Homo sapiens: one gene and its partner. The protein of the gene in region 2 purifies or fractionates together with the protein of the main gene of each other region. This does not show direct contact. Each region holds a gene or a part of one and is shown on either strand. Other genes may lie near its edges.

Region 1 (3,263 bases), on a different chromosome or scaffold from region 2:
CTAGGGGAAAACCAATCAGTCCAACATGAGATTTTAGGAATAGAAATTTGCCGGCCATTTGGAAAGTGAAATGCCACTTAGTTCTCAATTGATGACAGTGTTTGAATCATCATAAAAAAAATACCTGCTTTTCATCTGGACAACCCAATTGAGCCACTTTATCTCCTTTTGGCAATCTGAGTAGGCGGGGAACCTAGGCAGGGCTGGCTTTCTTAGCGTGTAACTTGTGTAGCAGCACAGGGCCCACACTTAGAAGGACCCCACACTTGGTTCAAGGCTCTGCTATAGCGGAAATTCTTAATAATGTTTGAAGAAGGGCCCCATGATTTCATTTTGTGCTGAGCCCTCAAAATTATGTCTGTTTCGTGGTGGGAAATATCCTATGTTTTCTTGCTCAAACACCTTTCTCTCTGAAAGCAGAAAAAGGCACTGATATAAAGGGAAGAGAAGGAGGCTCACCGGAGGGAAGAGAACATAGTGAAGATTCCCGCCTTTGGGGAGGTCTGGACCACCCAGGGCCTCCACTGCCACCTTGGCTGGCAAGGGAGAAATGTGTTGTGTTGTCTTAGCTTTAAAACAGTCACAGTTCTTGCTCTATCATAGATGAACAAATACTTTCTTGATCATTCTGTAAGACCAGGAGGTTGGTAAGAGTGACTAACCAGCCTAACTTTAATACACATGTATAAAGATGTTCACAGAGAAAGATGCTCTGTAGAGAATTTGCTACCGAAGTTGGCTCAAGAATTTGTTTTTAGTGTTATTTACCAAGATTAGGACGTCAGTGGCTTAAATTCTTTGAATTCTTTTCAAGGACTGCAAGATTATTTGATAAAGAGTAGCATGAATCTTGTGCTCTAATATTACACAGTAAGTTCAAAGAAAGGATGTAAGTCAAAGACTTGTTACATAGAGGGAAAATGGACTGGGATAGAGGACAGACTGATAGTTTCTTTCTTTCATATCACATGTATAGAGAAATAATTATATCAGAAACTCACAAACCTAGACATGGAAAAACAGATTACTGTCTATTGTCAGCATCATTTTCATCTGTAAGTCACTACTGGAATATATTTTTCTTTTAATTTCCAGTGACTTTAGAATACACACAGTTTTTCCGACTTTTCAAAAATTTGATTAAATGGTTTTATAGTATAATATTGGGACCCCATACCGTTAGCCCTTGTATGTATACCAACACTGCCAAAGTAAAACATTAGGTCAGGCATGGTGGCTCAGGCCTGTAATCCCAGCATTTTGGGAGGCTGAGGCAAGTGGATAACTTGAGGTCATGAGTTCGAAACCAGCCTGGCCAAAACAGTGAAACCCCGTCTCTACTAAAAATACAAAATTAGCCAGATGTGGTGGCGCACACCTGTAATCCCAGCTACTCAGGAAGCTGAGGCAGGAAAATCGCTTGAACCTGGGAGGTGGAAGTTGCAGTGAGCCGAGATCGCACCACTGCACTCCAGCCTGGGTGACAAGAGCGAAACTCCATCTCAAAAAAAAAAAAAAAACCAAAGTGAAACACTAAAAATTCCCTATAGATATATTCCAGGAAATATTTTAATTGGGCTGATTTTAATTAGGCTGTATCATTGATGATTACTGGAATCGATTTTATGTCTTTTGTATTTTAATCACTTGAGTTAATCAACCACTGGCAAATCCCATTTGACAAAGATTAGCATTGTAAAAAACAGATACTGTGGTAGATTTCTAGAAATTCATTCACATTTAAGACTTCTAAAATGGAATAATAGCCTTTTGTTTTTCATGAGCATATTCGCACCCCTATATGAATTACAGCATTTAAAGTTCAAAATCAGTAACTTTTAATCTAGGAAATTGAAAAATATTAAGTTGCAAAGCAAAAAAAGGTATTTTCTTGAAAATACTATTTAATGTTTAACTAGACTATAGGTAGTTCCTTAAGGTTGTTTGACCTGAAGTGGAGTTGGGTTTGGAAGCTGGTGCCCAGTTGGTGTGGAGTGTGTAGTTTTGTTATGAAAGTTCTCTACCACCTACCTGTGTGAGTGACACCAACATCCAGATGTCACAGCTCTCCAGAGCTAGTCAGAAGAGAAATCAAATTAGTGTTTAAACCCATTTGCATATTGACTTGTCAGTACCTTTAACTCAATTTAATATAACAAGAAATCGTAAAATACTTATAACCTATCTTAGAGAAATGAGTGCTGGTTTTGAGAGTTGTTTTTTAACTGAAAGATTATTTCTAGATGGGTAGTGCTTTGTGCTGGTTTCTGCTTCCATATATTTCCCAGTCATTTTAATTAGAGAAGATACTCTATGGTAGAACTAAGGCCTTTCCTTTCTTGGCCAAAGTCTTTACCCTATTTAACCCTTTGTATATTTCTGACTGCTCACTGTTCATATTATAGGGGACCAGATTTGTAATATAGAATTCTCCATAACATGAATGAAATTAATTCTGTCCAAGCCAGCATGGTGGCTTCATATTAAGTAGTAACAGAAGTCTGAACAATTGGATAAATTTGACTTCCAAGACAGCTAAACTTTTCAACTGCAATTTTAAAAACTACACTACACTGTTATAGTTAATCTGACAAAAATGTCCTCAAAGAGTACTTTATTTTATTTAAAGCATCTGTTTAATTCAACCTTTAATAATTTTGCAAAGAAGGGTATGTGTGTATTTTAATATAGCCTGACCTGAATTTATATGTTTTTAGCTTTAGTATTTAACTTTTTGTAACAAATAAACCTTTTTTAAAACAAGTTTAACGAAGTGTCCTGTAATTATTTTACCTTGGATGTTGAAATACTGAAATGATTTGGAGAATGCTGCCTTGTATTTCTCAAGCATAATTATGCTTCATAGATAATTTTCATTATGTGTAAAATATCTAGAATGTTGCTGATACTATAGCTGACTAATATGTGTGGTGAGATAAAGAAATTTATATTATCTTTAAAAGTCAAGACCAGAATTTATCTCAGCAAAATAACTGCCTTTATTTAGAAAAATGCTTTGATAATTAAACATAGAAGTGAGCCCCTTGTAGGCTTGAGTGTTGTCTGGGACCAAGGCTTGGGAAGTGGAGAAGCTGCTCTGATAATAGATGGAAAAGAATTTGGAACTTCCCAGGGCTGAGGAGCCCAGGTAGGGAGGGGAAAGAGACAAGGCAGCCATACCATGAGAATGGATGGTGCATGGAATGATGCAGTCCCTCCCCAGCAGGTTCCCAAATTTTCAGTAAAGCCTACTAAACTCATGA
Region 2 (3,844 bases):
CACAGCTTCTGGATTTCCCTCTTTGGGGTTAAGACACTGCAGGTCCCCTTTTCAATGCCAGCATTCCCTTGGAAGTGACCAGCTCTCGGCATCTTGACTCAAATGACTTGATTTTTATTTATTTATTTTTGTAGAAAGGGTCTCTCACTTTGTTGCCCAGGCTGAAGGGCAGGGGCGCCATCATAGCTCACTGCAACTTCAAACCCCTGGGCTCAAGAGATCCTCCTGCCTCAGCCTTCCAAGTAGCTGGGGCAACAGGTGCACGCTACCATGCCTGGCTAATTTTTAAATTTTTTTTTTTGTAGAGAATGGGTGTCGCTGTGTTGTTCAGGCTGATCTAAAACTCCTGGGCTCAAGTGACCCTCTGGCTTCAAAGCGCTGTGATTACAGGTGTGAGCTGACTGGGCCCGGCCTCAAATGCCTTTATAATTTAAGAAATGGCTCTGAAAAAAAAGGAAATACGTGATGTGGGCCAAAGCAGCGAACGTGTGAGGTGGGCCTGAGGAAAGGTCGGAGCTGGAGTCCCCCACAGGGACAGGTGATGTTGCTTTGAAGTGAATGAGATGCGTCTGAAAAAAATAATCTCAGAGTTGCCTGGGCACTAGAAGGGGCTTCCCTTGCCCCCTCGATTCCTGCTTCTACTCCCCGGGCTGGCCCTGCCCTGGAAACCACACGAGGGTGGCCCACGCATCCGTCAGATGTCTGGGGACCATGTACCTGCTAAGGGAGGGGAGGACGAGGCAGGGACATGGGGATGTATCAGGGTCAGTCATCGTGCCACAACCCCCAGCCCCCAGGGAACACGGGATGGGCAGCATTTTTACTTTAAAATGTTGCCTCATCTAGAGGGGTTTTCCACCCTGTTGGTGCTGGCTTTGGGGAGATATGATTTTATTTGATTTATGTATTTATTTATTTGAGATGGAATTTCGCTCTTTTTGCCCAGGCTGGAGTGCAGTGGCGCAATCTCGGCTCACGGCAACCACCATCTCCCAGGTTCAAGTAATTCTCCGGCCTCAGCCTCCCGAGTAGCTGAGATTACAGGCGTTCGCCACCACACCCGGCTAATTTTGTATTGTTAGTAGAGACGGGGTTTCGCCATGTTGGCCAGGCCGGTCTCAAACGCCTGACCTCAGGTGATCCACCCACCTCGGCCTCCCAAAGTGCTGGAATTACAGGCATGAGCCACCGTGCCTGACCGAGATGCAATTTTAGAGCCCAGGAGGCCAGGCTGCTATTTCTTCCAGGAGTGATTTCCCAAAATGGACCTGGAGCTGACAGGTTCCTGGGGGGACTTGTGGGGGGACCTTGTGCCCACTCGGTCGTGCATCTACTGTCCCCACATCCCCATCGCCAGAAGGCCAGCACCCACCTTTCTGCCACATTTTGGGAACCATAAAAGGACCCAGATTGGAGACTTGTTGAGGGACAGGTGGGACGTGGGCAGCTAACGGGGTTGAATATTATCCAACAGTTTTCATCCCCCTCCCCCCTCATAATAGAGTGGCAGAGAGAGGGTAAGGGATCTAATGAAAATTTGTGAAAGAAAAACAAGGTAAAATAGTTGAAATAGTTGAAAACCACAAGGTCAAATAGTTGGCCTTTCTTTTTTTAAATTTTTTTGAGACAGTTTCGCTCTTGTCGTCCAGGCTGGAGTGCAGTGGCGCAATCTTGGCTCACTGCAACCTCTGCCTTCCGGGTTCAAGCAATTCTCCTGCCTCAGTCTCCCGAGTAGCTGTGATTACAGGCGCATGCCACCACACCTGGTTAATTTTGTATTTTTAGTAGAAACGGGGGTTTCTCCATGTTGGTCAGGCTGATCTGGAACTCCTGACCTCAGGTGATCCGCCCGCCTCGGCCTCCCAAAGTGCTGGAATTACAGGTGTGAGCCACCACGCCTGGCCAGCCTTTCTTGTTGAAAGCCCAGCAGGTCTCCTGTGAGGTCCCTCCAGGGAGGGGCTTGTTCTGTATTTCTGGATCCTCCCAACACGGTAGGGATGGGGTCCATGGAAGGGACTCAGTCAGTGCCACCTGGGTGAACAGTCTCCTGGGGCAGGGCCAGGTGGGCTGGTCCCTCTGCTGCACCTGCTCTCCGGGTGCCCCTTGGCAACAGCAGTACCAAACACCTGCTATGTGCCAAGCGTTGTGCTGGTCACAGGGATGATGGAAATGACCCCTGCTCTAAACGAGTTTGAAGCATAGCAGGAAAGGCAAAGAAACTTTCATTTCCACATGGAGTTGTGACAACAGTGGACTCAGCTGTCGGGAAAGAGCTGAGGGGGTGAGAGGTACAGGGAAGTGTTTTTATTGTTTGTTTTCTTTTGTTTTTGAGACGGAGTCTCACTCTTGTTGCCCAGGCTGGAATGCAGTGGCTCGATGTCGGCTCATTGCAATCTCTGCCTCTTGGGTTCCAGCGATTCCCCTGCCTCAGCCTCCTGAGTAGCTGGGATTACAGTCATGCACCACCACACCCAGCTAATTTTTTGTATTTTTAGTGGAGACAGGGTTTCACCATGTTGGCCAGGCTGGTCTCGAACTCCTGACTTCAAGTAATCCGCTTACCTCGGCCTCCCAAAGTGCTGGGGTTACAGGCATGAGCCATGATGCCTGGCCAACAGCTGGATCCTTTAACCCTGACAGAGAGAGAGGAGTGAGGAGAGGAGGAATCCAGAGGCATGAGACCAGCACTGTCCAGTAGATCTTTGGACAATGTGGTTGAGGACGCTGGCTCATGCCTGTAATCCCAGCACTTTGGGAGGCTAAGGCAGGAGGAGTGGTTGAAGCCAGGAGTTCGAGACCAGGCTGGGCAACATAGTGAGATCCTGTCTCTACAAAAAAAAAAAAAAAAGAAAAAAATCAGCCAAGCGTGGTGACTTGGACCTACAAGTCACAGCTACTTGGCAGGCTGAGGTGGGAGGATCACTTGAGCCCAGGAGTTTGAGGCTGCAGTGAGCTATGATCATGCCACTACACCCCAGCCTGGATGACAGAGGGAGATCTTGTCTCAAAACAAAACCAAAAGAATTCTGGGGAATGGTAGAAATGTTCTCTGTGTGGCCTGTCCAGAAGAGTAGCCACTAACCAAGGCCCTGCCCGGCTGGCAGGAAAAACAAAATATAATTTGGGCAGCCTGGGCAACATAGACCCCCATCTCTACAAAAAATAAAAAATTAGCTGGGTGTGGTGGTGTGTGCCTATAGTTTCAGTTATTTGGGAGGCTGAGGCAGGAAGATCTCTTGATCCTAGAAGGTGGAGGCTGCAGCGAACTGTGATGATTGTACTCCAGTCTGGGTTACAGAGTGAGATCCAGAGAACGAAAGGGAGAGAGAGAGAGTGAGAGAGAGAGAGAGAGGAAGAAAGGAAGAAAGAAAGAAGGAAGAAGAAAGAAAAGGAAGGAAGGAAGGGAGAAAAAAAGAAAGAAGAGAAAGAAAGAAAAAAGAGAGGAGGGAGGGAGAGAGGAAGGAAGGAAGGAGAGAGAAAAGAAAAGAGAAAGGAAGGAAAGGAAAGAAAAAGAAAGGAAGGAAGAAAAGAAAGAGAAGCAGGGAAGGAGGAAGGAAGGAGGGAAGGAGGAAGGAGGGAAGGAAGAAGGAGGGAGGGAGGGAGGGAAGGAAGGAAGGGGAAATAAGACTGAAAAGACTGTGATTTGGAGTCAGTGGGACCCAGGTTTGATGTCGAATTGGCTGAGTGACCCTTGGGCAAGTCACTTGAGCTGCCTGAGCCTCAGTTTCTCCACCTGGGAAATAGAATAGTTGATGCCAGCCCAGAGGTGGCTGTGGGGCTCCTTGCCACACACCATTCTGAAACACAGTCTTTGTTTCTGGGCTCCTAGGCCTGTATGAACTCA

Evidence for each region. Proteins that work in one complex are often made in the same cells at the same time.
Region 1: the proteins of TMEM130 (region 2) and RHOBTB3 purify together in Homo sapiens (affinity purification with mass spectrometry; one large-scale study listed by BioGRID and IntAct). This does not show direct contact.

What each region holds. Positions count from the first base shown.
Region 1 is NC_000005.10:95,793,599-95,796,861, forward strand, and holds the end of RHOBTB3 (rho-related BTB domain-containing protein 3), read left to right. Parts: 3' UTR 1-2,763; downstream 2,764-3,263. UniProt on the Homo sapiens protein: Rab9-regulated ATPase required for endosome to Golgi transport. Involved in transport vesicle docking at the Golgi complex, possibly by participating in release M6PRBP1/TIP47 from vesicles to permit their efficient docking and fusion at the Golgi.
Region 2 is NC_000007.14:98,863,386-98,867,229, reverse strand, and holds part of TMEM130 (transmembrane protein 130 isoform b precursor), read left to right. Parts: intron 1-3,829; coding exon 3,830-3,844.